2 linked regions of the Homo sapiens genome follow. The protein of the gene in region 1 interacts with the protein of each later gene in a biochemical or structural test. Each region holds a gene or a part of one and is shown in the gene's direction. Other genes may lie near its edges.

Region 1 (9,739 bases):
TTAATTTTTGTATTTTTACTAGAGACGGGGTTTCACCCTCTTGGCCAGCCTGGTCTTGAACTCTCCTGACCTTGTGATCTGCCAACCTCTGCCTCCCGAAGTGCTAGGATTACAGGCCTGAGCCACCGTGCCTGGCCACTTTTTTTTTTTTTTAGATGGAGTCTCACTCTGTCACCCAGGCTGGAGTGCAGTGGCATGATTTCGGTTCGCTGCAACTTCTGCCTCCCAGGTTCAAGTGATTCTCTGGCCTCAGCCTCCTGTGTAGCTGGGATTACAGGTGCACGCCACCAAGTCTGGCTAATTTTTATATTTTTAGTAGAGACAGGGTTTCACCATATTGGTCATGCTGGTCTTGAACTCCTGGCCTCAAGTGATCTGCCTGCCTTGGCCTCCCAAAGTGCTGAGATTACAGGTGTGAGCCACTGTGCCCAGCCTGTTGTTTTCTCTCTTGAGACAGAGTCTCACTTTATCACCCAGGCTGGGGTGTAGTGGCTCGTCTCAACTCACTGCAACCTCCACCTCCCAGGTTCAAGTAATTCTTGTGCCTTAGCCTCCTGAGTAGCTGGGATTATTGAGGTGCGTGTCACCACACCCAGCTAACTTTTTTTATTTTTGGTAGAGACAGGGTTTTGCTATGTTGGCCAGGCTGGTCTCGAACTCCTGGCCTCAAGTGATTCTCCCGCCTCCACCTCCCACGGTGCTGGGATTACAGGCGTGAGCCAGTGCTCCTAGCCAGGACTTTTTTTATATACAAAGAAGAAATGTCAGGGAGTGCCTGTTTAAAGTAGAAATAGTTATATATGCAGTAGGAATTGTTCATTTAAAATACAAGCATCTCCATCCTACCACATTTAGGAGCTATGCTGAATATTGTGGGAGAGGTAAAGATGTTGAGTTTGACTCAGGGATGGAAAGAAAGGAGTTGAGAACAGTGGTGGTATTGGACAGTGCTTTGCAGTCAGGCAGTTGCGTCCGAAGTACTCTGCTAGTTATTAGCTTGTGTGCCATGTAAGCTATTGATTAAACCTGTCTGAGCCTCAGTTTCCCCATCTGTGAAACTGGAGTCGTAACAGACCCTTCTATTTAAAGTGGTTTTGAGGCTTCAGTGATGCCCGGCCCATGCTTAGCCAAGTGTGGTGGACAGAACAGTGGTGCTCAAAAGATGTTCATGTCCTCATCCCCAGAACCTGGAAATATTTTAATGGCCAAAGGAGCTCTGTGGGTTTGATTAAATTAAGGATCTTGAGATGGGGAGAGTGCCCTGGATTATCTGGTGGGCCTCACGTAACCCCCAGAGGCCTTATAAGGGAAAGAGGGAGGCAAGAGAGCTGGAACCAGAGCTGTGAAGATGCAAGCAGAGCCTGGAGTGATGCCAGCGCTTTCAGCAGCTTTGAAGACGAGGAAGGGACTGTGAGCCAAGGAAGGCAGGTGGCCTCGAGAAGCCGAAGATGCAAGGAGACACGTTCTCCTCTAGTGCTCCCGGAAGGAAGGAATGCAGCCCTGCCGCATCTAGATTTTAGCCCTGTAAGGCCGAGTTTCAGACTTTTGACCTCCAGATCTGTAAGATATTAAATTTGTGTGTTTTTTTTTTGTTTTTTTGAGACGGAGTTTCGCTCTTCTTGCCCAGGCTGGAGTGCAGTGGTGTGATCTCGGCTCACTGCAACCTCCGCCCCCCCGGTTTAAGCAATTCTCCTGCCTCAGCCTCCTGAGTAGCTGGGATTACAGGCATGCGCCACCACGCCTGGCTAATTTTGTATTTTTAGTAGAGACGGAGTTTCTGCATTTTGGTCAGGCTGGTCTCGAACTCCCTACCTCAGGTGATCCGCCTGCCTCAGTCTCCCAAAGTTCTGGGATTACAGGCGTGAGCCACTGCGCCTGGCCAAATTTGTGTTTTTAGCCACAAAGTTTGTGCTAATTTGTACAACAGTAACAGGAAACTCATACACCAAGCACCTGGCACATGGTGAGAATCCGAAAATGTTAGCCATGATGATCCTCTTGTGACAGATGGGACACCCAGGCAAGCAGCAGAGAAGGGGCTCAACAGGGCCACTTGGTAAGGGAGGACAGAGCCAGAGTTACTGCTTAATAACTCTTGAGTAGTAACTTCTGCAAACGGTTGCTGGGCGCCTGTTCTGCGTCTGTCTGTACATCCATTGGGAATGCAGTAGAGGCCTGCTGTGTTAATGATATTCGCAGCTGACATTTATGTAGTGTTTGCTCGGTGCCAGGCAGTATTCCAGGCACTTGGTATGTTATTTCTCATTCTTGGTATGGATTTGAATGTTCTCAACAACTTTATGAGATAGACGTTGTTATTGTCCCCATTTCATAGGTTCGAAAACTGAGGCACAAGGGGTGAAATGAAACCATTTGCTCCAGGATCACACAGCAGGAAATCAGCAGAGCTGGGAAGGACCAGACACTGTTCTTGGCCTTGGGGACACAGTAGGGAACAACTCAGACGATACTGTCCTTGCTCTTGTGGAGCTTAAAAGTCTGGCGGGAGAGACAGATGCTAGACAAATACAAACAAAAAAGATGTAACTGTGTAACACCAGGCAGTAATCATGAAGAAAAGTAAAGTCGGGTAGGGAGATAGAGAGTGGCACCAGGTAGGGGGCGAGGTAGGTTACTTATGGTCTGAAGTGACATCTGAGTGGGCACCTGAAGCACAGAAGGCAAACTTTTACCCAGCTATGGATATGTTTGAGGGAAGAGTGGTCTAGGCAGGGGGATTGGCAGGTGCAGAGGCCCTGAGGTGGGAAGGAGCCAGACTGTTCTTGGCACAGAAGGGAGGCCGTTGTGGCTGGTGGAAAGTCACCAAGCCTGGCCTGGGGAGCAGTCAGACTGGGACTTCTTGTTATTGTTGTTTTTGTTGTTGTTGTTGTTTTTGAGACAGAGTCTCACTCCATCGCCCAAGCTGGAGTGCAGTGGCACAATCTCGGCTCACTGCAACCTCTGCCTCCCGGGTTCAAGTGATTCTCCTGCCTCAGCCTCCCCAGTATCTGGGATTACAGGCGCTCACCACCATGCCCGGCTAATTTTAATTTTCATATTTTTAGTAGAGACAGGGTTTCACCATGTTGGCCAGGCTAGTCTCAAACTCCTGACCTCAAGCGATTCACCTGTCTCAGCCTCCCAAAGTGCTGGTATTACGGGTGTGAGCCACCACACCTGGCCCAGACTGGGACATCTCATGAGCCCAGGCAGCACTGTACACTGCCCAGGGCCCAGGGCTGGGAATGGCGGTGGAGGCAGGGGAGTCAGCAGGAGGTCTGCCGGCCTCAGCCTTAGGCAGGCCCTTCCTCCAGCACCATCTTCCTCCTCTAGCACGTCAGTGGTGTGATGGAGGAGCACGCGTGGACTGTTGCCAGCCTGCCTGGGTTCCGGTCCGGCTTTGCCACCCACCAGCTGTGAAGTTACATAACCACTTCCTGCCTCCGTTTGCTCATGTGTAAGATGGAGATAATTATAGCAACTGCCTGGCAGAGCCATTGCAGGAGAGTAGATACATGTATTATTAGCAGGAGTCTGGCACACCAGGAGCGCTCAGTGCACTCGGATGTTGGCCGCAGTTGTGGTTATAGTTGTTAATTCTGTGTCATCTCAACTTCCTTCAGAGGGAGGGTAAGTTTTTTTTTGAAGACAAGGTCTCATCACTCTGTCGCCCAGAGTACAGTGATGCGAACATGACTCACTGCAGCCTTGACCTCCCCAGGCTCACGCGATCCTCCTTCCTCAGCCTCCTGAGTAGCTGGGACCACAGGTATGTGCCACCATGCCTTGCTAATTTTTGTAATTTTTGTAGAGACAAGGTCTGGCTATGTTGCCCAGGCTGGTCTTGAACTCCCAGCCTCAAGTGATCCTCCCACCCCAGCCTCCCAAAGTGCTGGTTATAGAGACGTGAGCCACTGCGCCTGGCCAAGGAGGGAGGGTTGTTAATGACCATCTTCCCTTTTTGCATGTGAGGAAACTGCCTCACAGAGACGTTGAATACGTCACCCAAGGTTGTGCAGGTTGGAAATGGCATTGCTGTATTTGAGCCCAGGCCTACCTCACCCCAAGTCCAGGCTCCCTCCTTCCATACAGTGGTGTTCCTGTTGATAGCAGTGTGCAGGTGATGTCTAGATGATCTGACAGGGAGGCAACAGAGCAGATTGGAGCATCTGTCATCACCAGGGGTGGGAGAGGGCAGTGTAGGGTGGACTAGGTACCTTGGTTTTTTTTTTTTTTTTTTTTGTGACAGAGTCTCGCTCTGTCACCCAGGCTGGAGTGCAGTGGCATGATCTCTGCTTACTGAAACCTCTGCCTCCTAGGTTCAAGAGATTCTTGTGCCTCAGCCTCTTGAAGAGCTGGGACTACAGGCATGTGTCACCATGCCCGGCTATATTTTATATTTTTAGTAGAGAAGGGGTTTTGCCATGTTGGCCAGGCTGGCCTCAAGTGGTCCACTGCCTTGGCCTCGCAGAGTGCTGGATTTACAGGCTTGAGCCACTGCACCTGGCCCAGGTACCTTTGAGAGTTGTAATAATGCGTCATTCTAGGATCCTAATAAAAGAGCCCCAAACTGGAAGGCAGGACACTTGCCTCAACCTAACTGCCTCCCGTGCCCGCATGGCCCGCACGGCTTTCTGCATCTTCATCTGTCAGACAGGAATGGCAGATCCTTTGAGATGAGCCCTCCTATAGGTAGCTCTTTTCTTCTTTCAACAAATAGTTGTCTAGCACTGACTAATAATACCTCCTGACTGACAGCAGATAATTGCCTACTCTTCGCCATGCCCTGTGGCCATTATTTATGTGCATGATCCTAGATATGGTGGTCATTCCCATTTTACAGATGAGAAAACTGAGGCTCCAAAAGGTTAACTGGTATGGTCATACAGCTAGTGTGCAGCACAGCTGGGATTCAAACCCAGGAACCAGCGGTGAGCAAGATCGGACAAAGCCCCTGCCCTCAGGGAGGTTTCCTGGAGTCCTCTGCGATTGTGGGTGAGGGGTGACATGTGCTGTTTGTCTGCATGATGATTTGAATAAAGTTATAACTCTGGCAAGTGCTTATCAAGGAGAGCTCTATGGCAGTGTGTGATAAGCTGACCTGGTGGAGTCTGGAGAGGTCAGGGAAGCAGGTATGTGTGAGGTGGGCGCGTATGCATTCATTCAGTGACTATTTTGTGAGTTTCTGCTCCATGCCATACCCTGTGCTGCATGGAGGGGACACATGGCACCATTCAACCCTGGTGTGCCCCCTCACAGAATTGACATTACAGGGACATGGTGATCCAAAGGAGATTCATCCTGAGGTCCCACAGTGAGCCCAGAGGCAGAGCAGGCACTGACAGTGGCCTCTCTCTCTGCCCACAGTTGGAGAAGGAGGAGCAGATACACAGTGTGGACATTGGGAATGATGGCTCAGCTTTCGTGGAGGTGCTGGTGGGCAGTTCAGCTGGAGGCGCTGGGGAGCAAGACTATGAGGTAAGCAGGGCTATGAGATGGATCCCATACTGACCTCTGCCCCTCATGCTCGCATCACCGTCTCCCCCAGGGGCTGGGGCTGGGAAGACATGGGGCAGATGTGAGTCACACCTGATTGCTGCCCTCTGGAGGATCACCCAGTGTACGGAGGAGACAGAAGGCAGACACAGGGCGGTAAACTGCACATCAGGGAAGAGAGCAAGTTTGGATCATGGCTTAAAATGACACAAATGTATTATTCGACTGTTCTGGAGGTCAGAAGTCTGAAATCACTCTCACTGGGCTAAAATCTAGGTGTAGGCAGAGCCCTGTTCCTTCTGGAGGCTCTAGGGGAGAATCCATTTCCTTGCCTATTTCAGCTTCTAGAGTCCATCTGCCCTCCTCAGCTTGTGACCCTTCCTTCATCAAAGCCAGCACTCCTGTCACTCTAACGCCTGCTTCCACTTCCATTGTTACTTCTCCAACTCTGACTCTCTTGCCTTCTTTTTTTCTTTTTCTTTTTTTTTTTTTGAGACGGAGTCTCGCTCTGTCGCCCAGGCTGGAGTGAGTGCACTGGCGCGATCTCAGCTCCTTGCAACCTCTGCCTCCCGGGTTCAAGCTATTCTTCTGCCTCAGCCTCCCGAGTTGCTGGGACTACAGGTGCCCACCACCACGCCCGGCTAACTTTTTTTTTTTGTATTTTTAGTAGAGACGGGGTTTCACCATATTGGCCAGGCTGGTCTCGAACTCCTGACCTCGTCATCTGCCCGCCTCAGCCTCCCAAAGTGCTGGGATTACAGGCGTGAGCCACTGCGCCTGGCCTTCTTTTTCTTTTGTTCATTTTTTTTTGAGACAGGGTTTCATTTCCGTTGCCCAGGCTGGAGTACAGTGGCGTGTTCTCAGCTCACTGCAACTTCTGCCTCTGAGGTTCAAGTGATTCTCCCACCTCAGCCTCCCAAGTAGCCAGGGCTACAGGTGCACACCACCACTCCTGGCTAGCTTTTGTTATTTTTTATAGAGAGAGGGTTTCACTGTGTTGCCCAGGCTGGTCTCAAACTCCTGGGCTCAAGTGATCCACCCACCCCAGCCTCCCAAAGTGCTAGGATTACAGGCATGAGCCACCACACCCAGCCCTCCTTTCTTATAAAGACCCTTATGATGACACTTGGCCTACCCGGATAATCCAGGGGCATCTCCCCCATTTCAACATCTTCAAGTTCATCACATCTGCAAAGTGCCTTCTGCCACATTTCCAGGTTCAGGGATTAGGATGTAAACATCTTTGAGGAGCTGTTATTCTGCCTGTCTCCTATGTTTTCTTCTAGAAGCTTTCTATTTTTAGATTTTACATTTAGATCTCTGTTTCATCTCAAGTGAATTTTTGTGTATTGTGTGAAGCAGGGGATAAGGTTTATTTTTTCTGTATCTTTTTTTTTTTTTTTTTTTTTTTTGAGATGGAGTCTCACTCTGTTGCCCAGGCTGGAGTGCAGTGGCGCGATCTCGGCTCACTGCAAGCTCCACCTCCCGGGTTCACGCCATTCTGCCTCAGCCTCCGGAGTAGCTGGGACTACAGGCACGTGCCACCATGCCCGGCTAATTTTTTGTATTTTTAGTAGAGACAGGGTTTCACTGTGTTAGCCAGGATGGTCTCGATCTCCTGACCTTGTGATCTGCCCACCTTAGCCTCCCAAAGTGCTGGGATTACAGGTGTGAGCCACCGCACCCGGCCCTTTTCTGTATCTTTTTTATATGTTTGTTGACAATGCTTATTTATTTATTTTATTTATTTTAAGACAGAGTCTCACTCTGTTGGCCAGGCTGGAGTGCAGTGGCATGATCTTGGCTCACTGCAACCTCCGCTTCCCAGACTCAAGGGATTCTCCAGCCTCAGCCTCCTGAGTAGCTGGGACTATAGGTGTGAGCCGCCATACCCGGCTAATTTTTTAAAAAATTTTTTGTAGAAATGGGGTTTCACTACATTGCCTGGCTGGTCTTGAACTCCTGAGCTTAAAGTGATCCTCCCACCTTGGCCTCCCAAAGTATTGGGATTACAGACCTGAGCCACTGCACCTGGCTGAAAATACTTTGAAAAAAAAAAAAAGACTTGCCTTTTCTCATTGAATCATTTTGACTCCTTGTTGAGAATTAATTAACCATATGTATGGGTTTATTTCTGTACTCTCTTCTCTGTTCCATTGATATGTATAGTTTTCTTTATGCCAATACCAAACTGTCTCTTTTTTTAACCATATTATTTATTTATGTATATATGTATTTATTTATTTATTTATTTATTTATTTGAGATGGGGGTCTCACTCTGTTGCTCAGGTTGGAGTACAGTGGCATGATCTCAGCTCACTGCAACCTCTGCCTCCTGGGCTCAAGTGATCCTCCCGCCTCAGCCCCCCAAGTAGCTAGTGGGAGCCATCATGCCCGGCTAATTTTTAAATATTTTTTGTAGAAATAGGGTTTCACTGTGTTGCCCAGGCTGGTCTTGAACTCCTGAGGTCAGGTGATCCACCTGCTGCGGCCTCCCAAAGTGCTAGGATTACACATGTGAGCTGCTGTGTGTACCTGGCCTACTCTTTTTTTTTTGAAACGAGGTCTCACTTTGTCACCCAGGCTGGAGTGCAGTGGCACGATCTCAGCTCACTGCAGCCTTGTCCTCCCGGGTTCAAGTGATCCTCCTTCCACAGCCCCTCAAGTAGCTGGGACTACAGGCTTGCACCACCATGCCCAACTTTGCACTAGTCAGTGTGACAAGGTGAGAAAAAGAAAAAAGAAAACTATCTTTTTTCACAGATGGCATGATTGTCTATGCAGAAAATCCCAAGAGATCTAGACAAACTACAAGGTTTAGTAAGTGAAGGTCACAAGATGAGAAGTCAATATACAAAATAAACTGTATATTACACATCACTTCTGTGGTATTCTGGCCAAAGTGTGCAACCTAAATTAATCACAAGGAAACATCAGATACTTTGTACAATAAGTGATATCTGACAAAAATCACTGACCTCTACTCTTCAAAAACATCAAAGGCACAAACCCAAAGTCACAGGAGCCTTCCTTCCTTCCATTCTCCCTCCCCTCCTTCCCTCCCTCCTTCCTTTTTTTTTTTTTTTTTTTTTTTTTTTGAGATGGAATTTTGCTCCTGTTGCCCAGGCTGGAGTGCAGTGGTGCAATCTCGGTTCACTGCAACCTCCGCCTCCCAGGTACAAACGATTCTCCATCTTAGCCTCCCAAGTAGCTCGGATTACAGGCCTGTGCCACCATGCATGGCTATTTTTTTTGTATTTAGTAGGACAGGGTTTTCCCATGTTAGTCACCAGATGATAAATGCAGCTTCCCTGTCAGCTCCAAATCAGGCCTTTTATAAACAAGTATAGTCAAGGTCAGGAAGAAAACTTCCCTTCTGTATAATTGTCTTTCTTGTTTCCTTTGCATAATCAGCTGTGCACAAAGAGAGCTATAGTTATGTTCTGTTTTTCTCAGCAAAAGGCTTTATTGTCCAATTTTATAATTTCACAGCATGTCAGTTAGAAAAGAGACTAAGTCAGTAACAAAATATACCCAACCAAAAGTGGCTGCATTCATCTTTTTTTTTTTTTTTTTTTTTTTTGAGACGGAGTCTCGCTCTATTGCCAGGCTGGAGTGCAGTGGCGCAATCTTGGCTCACTGCAACCTCCGCCTCCTGGGTTCAAGTGATTCTCCTGCCTCAGCCTCCCGAGTAGCTGGGACTACAGGCACGCGCCACCATGCCCAGCTAATTTTTTTGTATTTTTAGTAGAGATGGGGTTTCACTATGTTGGCCAGGATGGTCTCGATCTCCTGACCTCGTGATTTGCCTGCTTTGGCCTCCCAAAGTGCTGGGATTACAGGTGTGAGCCACTGTGCCCAGTCTTTTTGTTTCGTTTTTTGTTTTTTGGCAGAGTCTTGCTCCGTCACCCAGGCTGGAATGCAGTGGCACAATCTCGGCTCACCATCACCTCCAACTCCTGGGTTCAAGCGATTCTTGTGCCTCAGCCTCTCGAGTAGCTGGGATTATAGGTGCCTACCACCATGTCCAGCTAATTTTTGTATTTTTAGTAAAGACGGTGTTTCACCATGTTGGCTAGGCTGGTCTTGAACTCCTGGCCTCTTGTCCACCAGGCTTAAGTGCAATGGTGCGATCTCAGCTCACTGCAACCTCCGCCTCCTGGGTTCAAGCAATTCTCGTGCCTCAGCCTCCCGAGTAGCTGGGACAACAGGCGTCTGCCACCATGCCTGGCTTAAATTTTG
Region 2 (9,739 bases), on another chromosome or scaffold:
GAGATGGGAGGATCGCTTGAGCCAAGCAGTTTGAGGTTTTAGTGAGCTATGATCATGCCACAGCATTCTAGCCTGGGAAACAGACTGTAGAGTGAGTGTATGTGTGTGTGTGTGAGAGAGTGAGAGAGAGAGAATCTCACTCAAAGGCTTAATAAATGAGGGTGATACTGACACAAGATAATCAGGCTGAACAATAGTCCAGGTGAGAGTTATGTAGGTTTAAACTAGGGCACTAGCAATGGGTAGAGAGTACAGGATAGATTCCAAAGGGATTAGGAATAAAAGTTGACAGAATTTATGGTGTGGTTGGTTGGGGTGGGGGAGCAGGGGGCTGTGTGGTGAGAGAAAGGACTTTCTCTTTTTCTCCATGAACACAAAGTAGTTAAGACATGAAACCTGAGATGTCATATTGTAAGAATTATGCAGAAATGGGGGTTTGTAAAATGTGTGTATATGAGATAAAGATATGAGGGGGCCAAGGGTTCTGTTAAGAAGTAAAAAAGATTGGGTTCCAGAATGGGCAGGAAAGGAAATGAGATCAGGAACTGGATAAAGGAAAGGAGATGGTCAAGAGATGGTAGGTCCCCATGAAATTGAAGAGCAGGTGTGGGAATGAGTAGGCTGGAAGAACCAGAGCTTGTGATCTGAGAGTCGGATTAAGATTTCAGAGAGGCAGCAGTTTAGGTGACAACTAGCTTTAAATGTGATTATAATATTTGGTTGCTGGAGAGTAGATTAATTTCTTCAAATTTAGGATTTAAGGAACTGAAAATTGAGGATGGTGTTTCTCAGATTGTATTTGAAGGACTAAAGCATGAGTACCACCTGGGGTGAGATTCCTAGGTTTAAACCTATGTCTACTGGCCTAGAATTTCTAAGGAAAGGGGCTGAGAATATGTATTTCTAACAAGCAATTTCAGTGATTCTGATGAATAGAAGTTGGGACAAGTTTAAGAACCTGTGCAATAGGTGTTGGATGGTTCATTTTCAAGGCTATTTAAATAGGCTGATAGTCATGTCAGGAGTTAGGATGAAGAGGATGATCAGTAGTGAAAAGATGACATTAATCCCTTACAGGTGGTGAGAGAGCAGTTTTAGGGGATTATGGGGTATGTTAAAGTCAGTGTGATAGAGACTTGAAAGAAAAAGTAATGATGTTGGAGCAGTAAATTGTCTCCTCCTGTCCTATATATAGGGAGTGTATGAAAATGTGCAGTTTTCTGTTTGGCGTAGGCTGCAGCAAGGAAATGAACATAGCCTTCTTTGATGCCATTGAAGTTGTAGGCTCCTTGAAGTTGGTGAAAGGGTTGAGAGGAAAGTCAAAATAGTGGAGTCCATTTCATCTAAAGTCAGAGTAAAACAAAAAGGTTACTTAGAAACCTTGTTTAGTCAGTATATTAGGCAGTGTTCTCTAGGGGGACAGAACTAATAGAATATATATATGAGTTTATTAAGTATTAGCTTACACGATCACAAAGTCCCACAACAGGCTGTCTGCAAGGAGCAAGGAGAGCTAGTCCGAGTCCCAAAACTGAAGAACTTGGAGTCTGATGTTCGAGGGCAGGAAGCATCCAGTACAGGAGAAAGATGTAGGCTGGGAGGCTAGGCCCATCTTTCTTTTTCACATTTTTCTGCCCGCTTTATATTCACTGGCAGCTGATTAGATTGTGCCCACCAGATTAAGGGTGAGTCTGCCTTGCCCAGCCCACTGACTCAAATGTTAATCTCTTGGCAACACCCTCACAGACACACCCAGGATCAATACTTTGTATCCTTCACTCCAATCAAGTTGACACTCGGTATTAACCATCACAGTCAGTTACTTTTGAAAGTTCTCTGATTTTAAAACAAATTGTTTGTTCTGTTAAACATTTGGTAGGATAAGTCAGCTTGTATTTAGGGGCCACATAATGGCATTAAGAATATGTTTCTTTAAACACTAGAATCTTAAGATACCGTAGGGAGATAGATGCCCATAGTATGAGAGCCACATGGAAATAAAAGAAGATTGAAGTCTCCTCTATCTTGTGTTTACTGTGAGATCTATCATTTCTTTAGTTATCATGTGTTCTTGATTATTCTGTGTAATATGATGTGCGTCCTGTAGTGGACATGGTGAGGTGGAGATGGAAATACTAAATGAGAAGAAAGAAGATTAATGACTGAGATGGTACAGGTTTTTAAGAGTACAATTCCATGTAGTTAATTTCATTTACAATGTTATGCAACTATCACCATTATAGATTTTCCACAACTTTTTTTTAGCATTACAAACAGAAACTCTGTACCCATTAGGCAATAACTCTCCACTTTCCTTCCTTCACTCTCTGGTAACTTCTGATACCTTCTGCTTCTATGAATTTGCCTATTCTTGATATTTCATGTAAGTGGAATCATACTTTTCTGTATGTGGCTTATTAGTATGTTTTCAAGGTTCATCTATATTGTAGCACATATTTCTTTTTATTACTGAATAATGTACTGTTGTATTTATAGACCACATTTTGTTTATCCATTCATCTGTTGGTAGATACTTGAATTGTGTCCACCTTTTGCCTAATATTTCCGCAGTGAATATTGGCATACAAGTGTCTGAGAACCTCTTCAATTCTATTGCTATATCCCTGGGAGTGGCATTGCTGTGTTAGCTTTTTGAGGAAGCAACAAATTATTATTCACAGCAGCTACACCCTTTTACCTTCCTACCAGCAGTTTTCAAAGGTCCTATTTTTCTACATCCTCACCAACACTTATTATTTTTCCCTTTAAAAAAGTTGTAGCCTCCTTATAGATGTATCATTGTGATTTTGATTTACATTTCCCTAATTACTAATAATGTTAAGGATCTTTTTGTGTGTTTATTGGCCATTTGTGTATCTTCTTTAAGTTCTTTACTCATTTTTTGCTCACTTTTTAATTGGTTTGTCTTTGTTGTTGAGCTGCAGTTCTTTACATATTCTGGATATTAAACCTTTATCAGATACATGATTTGCCAAGATACTCTCCCATTCTGCAGTTTGTCTTTTTATTTTCTTAACAGTGTCTTTTGATGCACAAAAATTTTAAACTTATATAAAGCCCAATTTATTTCCTATGTTTCTCATGCTTTTGATGTCATATCTAGGAATCCATTGCAAATCTAAGGCCATGAAGATTTGCTCCTGTGTTTTCTATTAAGAGTTTTATGGTTTTATTTCTTATATTTAGGTTATTGATTCATTCTGAGTTAACTTTTATATATAGTATACGGTAGAGGTCCAGCTTAATTATTTTGCATGTGGAAATCCAGTTGTCCCAACAACATTAGTTAGAGGTGCCTGTTTTCCCCCATTGAGTAGACTTGACACCCTTTTGGAAAATCAGTTGGCTATTGATGTATGAGTTTATTTCTGGACTCTCAATTCTATATCATTGGTGTATTTATCTGTCCTATGCCAGCACCAAACTGTCTTGTTACCTTAGCTTTGTAGTAAGTTTTGACATTGGATTTTTCAAGATTGTTTGGGTTACTTAGGGTCCTTTGCAATTCCATATGAATTTGAGGATTGCTTTTCCATTTCTGCAAAAAAGGTTGTTGGAATTGTGATAGGAATTATGTTGAATCTGTAGATCACTTTGGGTAGTATTGTCATTTTAATATGTTAAGTCTTCCAATCCATACATCACTTGTCTATTTACTTAGCTCTTCTTTAATTTCTTTCAGTAATGCTTTATAGTTTTCTGTGTACAAGTCCTTCACCTCCTGGGTTAAGTTGATTCCTGGCTATTTTATTCCCTTAGTTACTTTATGAATGAACTGTTTTCTTGATTTCTTTTTTGGATTGTTGTCTCCTGGTGTATCAGAACACAACTGATTTTTTTGTGTGTCAAACTTGTAACCTGCAACTTTGCTGAATTTGTTTATTAGCTTTCTTGGGGATTCTATGAGATCTTCTATCTAGAGAGAATAGACATAGTTTTACTTCCTCCTTACCCGTCTGTATGCCTTTATCTCTTTTCCCTAATTTGCTCTGCTAGAACTTACAGTCATGTTGAATAGCAGTGGTAAAAGCATGCATCTTGTCTTTAATTTTTCCCACTTTTAAGATAAAGTTTTCCACTGAATTTTTTGAAAGGATTATACATAATTAACTGATTCTCTTGATCTTAATTACTCTTTTTTTCTTTTGCAGCACAAAGAATGAACCAGCAGTGGAAGAGAAAATACTGTAAGCTGGCTGACTGCTGGTGAAGAAAATGCTTTATTTTTGTGGCAGGCATCTGTGGGATCTGTAATAGAAATGTAAGTGTAGCATCATGGTTTTTTTCAGTGCTGCAGTAAATTAAATGGATTGGTTTAACGTGTGGTAAATTGAGTATCTGTCATATGTAGTTTTAATTATATTAAATGAGCATTTTCTTTTGACTTATAGGTGCTTTATTAACAATTTATTTACATTAAGTTATCGTTAATGTAGATTTCCAAGTCTCCTCAAAAGGAAAAGTCTCTATAAGAAAAACTGAAGACACAGGAGTTTGCTCAAAGAATGCTGAAATAGATCTCCAGGTCCTCTGGGTTCTACCTTCTTTTTACATAATAATTTTCTTAAATAACTAAGCTAGGCAAGTAGTACTAGCTTTTGTAAATAAGACAGACTACTAGGTTATAAAAACTCTAGTTACTAAAAACTTGTTTCACTAAATTAAAGGAATTTCTACATAATTGATTTTTTTAATGTAATAATACATCACTGCATTTTATTCATATCACTTCACTCTGATCCCCAGTTTTACTAGTTGTGCTTTCATCATTTATCTTTGCATGATATGCTTTAAAGTGTTACACACTACCTTGGATTTGTCCATATTTAACTTCACCGTATTGATGAAACATTTTTCACTATGAATATATTTCTGTTTTCTAAATTCATATAAGCCCTATGCAACTTGATGTCATTCATGAAAAATGTAGTGAATATTTTATTGACTTTTAATTACAGTGTTTTTCTTATTAGAGCAAGAGTGACCTTGGTAGATGCTATTTCACATTTTCCCAGTTTGACATAAAACTCTTGCTTTCTACTCTTCCAGTATGATACTGGTTACATGTAATGATATGTATTAACAATAATTAATTTATTATTAAAAGTATGACCATATTATTTTTATTCAGTATTGAAAATTTGATAATTGAAAAATGATACTAATAAGCATTTGTCTTTAAAAATATATATTTTATTTAATCCTGTCCATTTATCTATCTGTATACATTTTTTAAAATCTTAATAGGTCAGATAGTCTAGGTGCTGGTCATCAAGGAACTTACTGTGATCCAGTAAATGAGACATGTATGTAATTAACAAACAGTGGAATAGATGCCATATTAAGGTAACAATCAGATGCTATTGAAACTGAACAGAGGAAGAGATTAATTTCATCTGAAGGGTTCAGAATGAACAGAATAAGTTTCACCTTGCCTTCAAAGAATGAGTAGAATTTTAACAGTCAAAGAAAATTAGGAAATATTTTTCAAGCCAAGGGAATGAGGAGGGAAACAGCTGCCTAATCATCAACACATTTTAGAGGAGTCAGGGAACAGTAATATGTGGGAAGGCAGGGTAGGAGAAAGAGACTTCAAAATAAGTGCAGGGAGTGAACATTTATTTAGTACTTACTATATTACCAGATTTTACATTTATTTAACATACAATCAATCTTAATTGATTTTGATACTTAGGGACAGAGTATATTGATCAGTCTTGGAGGAGTTAGGGGACAGTACTTACTAGATGTTGAGGGGTTAGCTTTGTAAACAAGTAGCAGTACCCCATATTGAGCCAGGAGGAATAATGATAAGACAGTAAAGGTAAAGATAGATTTTCAGGATTTATTTTTGACTTACCTAATTTCTCAGTGATACAGGTGTTAGTATATCGATAAACTAGGAGGGAGAAGTTTTATGATAGTCTCTGGGGAATAGGGAAAGAAAGATGTCTTGGCCGAGTAAAAGTTTACTGGGATTGATGGTGTTTAGGAAATCAAAATAGCTATTAAGTGTGTGGGGTTCACAACTTTTGCACCACACAAAAGTGAATTGTATGGTGAAATTTTTGTCACTTAGAGTAACTTGCTTGATTATTCTTTTTTGCGAATGTCTCCCTTGTTGGCTTTTGTGGTGGTGGTCTATCTTTATTTCCTGTTCTTCTCTGACCATTCCTTACACCCCTTCCTGGCTATTTTACCTCACAGATATTGGAGTAATTCAAGATTCTGTGGTTGGCCCTTTTGACTGCTCTCTCTACAGGTTTAATTTGGGCATTTACTCATTTTCATGGCTCCAAGGACCATGTATGTGTTGGTGAGTCACCAGACTTTTTTCAGCTCAGATTTATTCTTGGAGTATCAAACTAGTAAATTCAGCTGTCATCTACCTATCTCCACCTGGAGACCTTAATAAAGTCATTATGTCTGAGACAGAACTCTCCTCAAATTCTGAATTTTGGTGAATGTGTCACCATCCATCAGTAATCAAATGCTTTCATTTCTTTTTCCTTAGCATTCTTCTATTCTATTGTTGGAAACTTACATCAGCAACCTCCCTCTAATTATCTTATACTTGCATTACTACCTGGATATTCTAGTTTCCCTTTCGCCATACCTCCTCCTGCATTACCAAACTTTCCTCCAACCTGCTGTTCAAATGGTCTGGAAGCTACTAAACTGGCTGTTATTTCCTGACGTAAAACCTTTCAGTGAACTCCTCTTGTCTCATTAGTGGTTCATATGTGGACCAGCTTCATAGAAATCCTTAAGCCCCTTGAAATTATATGTAGGATTGTTCCCTTTTTGTGTGTCTGTAATTGGATTCTAAATTCAGACTTTAAAAATCTGATTTTTAATATTTGGAGTTTTTATTGCAAGCTAAAAATTTCTTGAATACTACACATACTAAAGATCTTTTTTGCTTATAATAATTTTGCCTTTCATTTGACTAGTTGTCCAAGAAGTTTCAAGGAAATCTGAGTTCTTGGAGATTTCCACTAACTCTGCCCATACCCCTCTATATTTTGTCTTCTTGAGAAGAAGACTTAGTATTAATAGACTCTTATTAGTCTGGCAGAAATATTTCACATGGTTTATCTATTGGAAGAAGGGGATTTATACTTAAAAGTTGGAATATCACATGAAGAATTCAGTAAAAACGTCTTTGAAAGTAAATGATGTATTATACTTATTAATAGAATTGGACTAACGTCACTCCAAATTTCTGTGTATTAAATTCTTAGTTTAGTAAACTGGAAATAAATTCCCTTTTTCAAAATTAGAATTTTCTGAGACATTTATGAGATAGGGAATACCTCTTTTGATTAGCATTAATACTTGCTCTACACAAAGGGAGGGGAAAAGCTTTCTTATTTACATATTGGTATGATCATCTGCATACATTTAGTCTCCCACCTATTTTAAGATCATTGGAACTGCAAAACAGAGACTGTGTAGGGTAGATTAAAATGGTTTTTTAAAAAGCCTTGAAGTATGTCTTATAGGTAGACTAGCAGTTTGGGGTTACTTTGTGTCTATCTTGTTACACATTTTATCTCTATCTTACTTATTGCATGTGCCTCATTCAGAATTAAATAAGAAATATCACTAAGTTTTTCTGCCCATTTGTTAGTTGGTGATAGACTAACAGTATACTTGATGGGCTAAACAGAATCAGAATTTATAAATTGCTATGGCAAATTGATAGTTAAGAGTGCTTCAGATGAAATAATGACCATTTAGCTGTCTGGTGTCCATTGTTTGCAGATTAACTTTGTCCAACTTCACTTCATTCTGATGATGGAACCAAAATACCTGCACAAACAGGATTGTTTTGCCTTTCCAATTATGTTATTATAATTCATGCCTTCTCCTGGGATGATTGTAATTGCTTTCTTAGTTTTGAAATTATGTGTTTTGGTTTATTCATAAATGCAAGAGTAAGAGTCATGCAAAATATTAATCATATTAAGTAGGGTGGAGGATAATGTTTTTAGGTTGGAAACTTTTTTTTCTGTAGATAAACGAGCTGTATGTGATGGAAAACTGACTTCTTGGGCCCATTTTACTTAAAGCAAATACAATAGGTTTGGAATTATGTATTTAAAAGCATGGCATTGGTCCACGTGACATGTTGGGTGTCTTGTTTTCATTTTACCAGACTCTGTTTTTATTTATGTTTTCAGTTTATGATCCTGTCCTTTGTTCATAAGGTACTTAGATGGTTTAAGATGTAGACTTCTTATATGAAGATGTTGCTGTTGTTTTTCCAAAGTAATGGTGGTCATCAGCCCATTTTTCTATTTAGTCTCATGAATAGAATCATGAGTAGAATCTTTCTTAAATTATTACTTGTAAATGGATCACTTTCTTGTTTTCTTTTTCTTAATTGGAGCTTTAAATAAATATGGAACTTGGAACAAAAAGATTTTCAGGAATTTTATGGAAACTAACTTTTTTGACCTAAATCGAAAGGGATGAAAGTTTCTGAAAACCTAACAAAATGTGTGCACAGCCAATTCTTTTAGGGGAGGAAATAGGCAGGGAATGTGTAATTGGCTATTTTAAAAACATATGCCTTCTTTTGTAACTTATTGTTGTTTCAAGTTACAAGATCTTTGAAGGCAAGTGTTTATCTCAAAATATTTGAAAGCTTTTATAGTGCTTAACATACTAAGACGTCCTATTAGGGTTTACTTAGAACAAGCTTATCCAACTTGTGGGCCACATGTGGCCCAGGATGGCTTTGAAAGCGGCCTAACACAAATTCATAAGCTTTCTTAAAACATTATGTGATTTTTTTTTTTAGCTTATCAGCTATCATTAGTGTTAATGCATTTTATGTGTGGCCCAAGACAATTCTTTTTCTTCCAGTGTGGCCCAGGGAAACCAAAAGATTAGACACCCCTGACTTAGAACTTTCCATAGGTTAGGAGAAAGTTGTACTTTCTTGATGTCTATAACCTAGAATTTCTGGTAAAGGAATTGATTGGAAATGTTATTAAAAGTTGAAAATAATTTGGAAATTAAACATTTTAGTGATCAGTTCTTCCATTGAGACTGTGTTGGTTCCTTTACTAGATATGTGCCATCTTTTTAAAAACTTACTGTGTTGCTTCCTTTACTAGAAAATTGCCATCTTTTTGAGCCTTGTCTATTGAGGAACCAAGAACACAGAAAAGGCAGTAAAAAGAAAAAAAAGGATTGTTTGAAGATTGAATGTGCTGTGATGATAGCCTAGGATTATTGTTTTTCAATTTTTGATGAGCGTAAGCATTCTTGTTGACTATATCTTTTGTAACTACTGACCCATTTAGAATGGCAGAATTAGCTGGCAGAGAGATTGTCATTCATTTTAAGCTTTCAATCTCTGACATCTTCATCTTTATTTCTCAGTCTTTTTTACTTATCAGTGGTTTACTCCATTATTTTCTCCCCTTTTAAAATGTCTTTTTTTTTTTTTTTTTACCATGGGGAAAAAAATTAGATGTTTCCTTGGCAGGGCACAATAACACAATAAGGCTTTCATGACTTAACTTTTGATTACCTTTACACCTTCATCTCCTGCTCTTCCATTGCTTGTATGACTATTTGACTCAGTGTCTTGCATGTGCTTCTGCCTGGAATCTGCTCCACTGCCCAGCCCCTCTGAATGAACACTAAACTTTCTAACCTATGTCCATCCTCTCATCTCTCTCTTACTGTTATTTTAGTAAGT

What was found.
Region 2: of the proteins of XRCC1 (region 1) and RNF146, one has a biochemical effect on the other in vitro, tested with the Homo sapiens proteins (one study listed by BioGRID).

The regions. Positions count from the first base shown.
Region 1 is NC_000019.10:43,556,649-43,566,387, reverse strand, and holds part of XRCC1 (DNA repair protein XRCC1), read left to right. Parts: intron 1-5,367; coding exon 5,368-5,478; intron 5,479-9,739. UniProt on the Homo sapiens protein: Scaffold protein involved in DNA single-strand break repair by mediating the assembly of DNA break repair protein complexes. Negatively regulates ADP-ribosyltransferase activity of PARP1 during base-excision repair in order to prevent excessive PARP1 activity.
Region 2 is NC_000006.12:127,276,059-127,285,797, forward strand, and holds part of RNF146 (E3 ubiquitin-protein ligase RNF146), read left to right. Parts: intron 1-4,172; 5' UTR 4,173-4,280; coding exon 4,281-4,282; intron 4,283-4,457; exon of another isoform or gene 4,458-9,290; intron 9,291-9,739. UniProt on the Homo sapiens protein: E3 ubiquitin-protein ligase that specifically binds poly-ADP-ribosylated (PARsylated) proteins and mediates their ubiquitination and subsequent degradation. May regulate many important biological processes, such as cell survival and DNA damage response.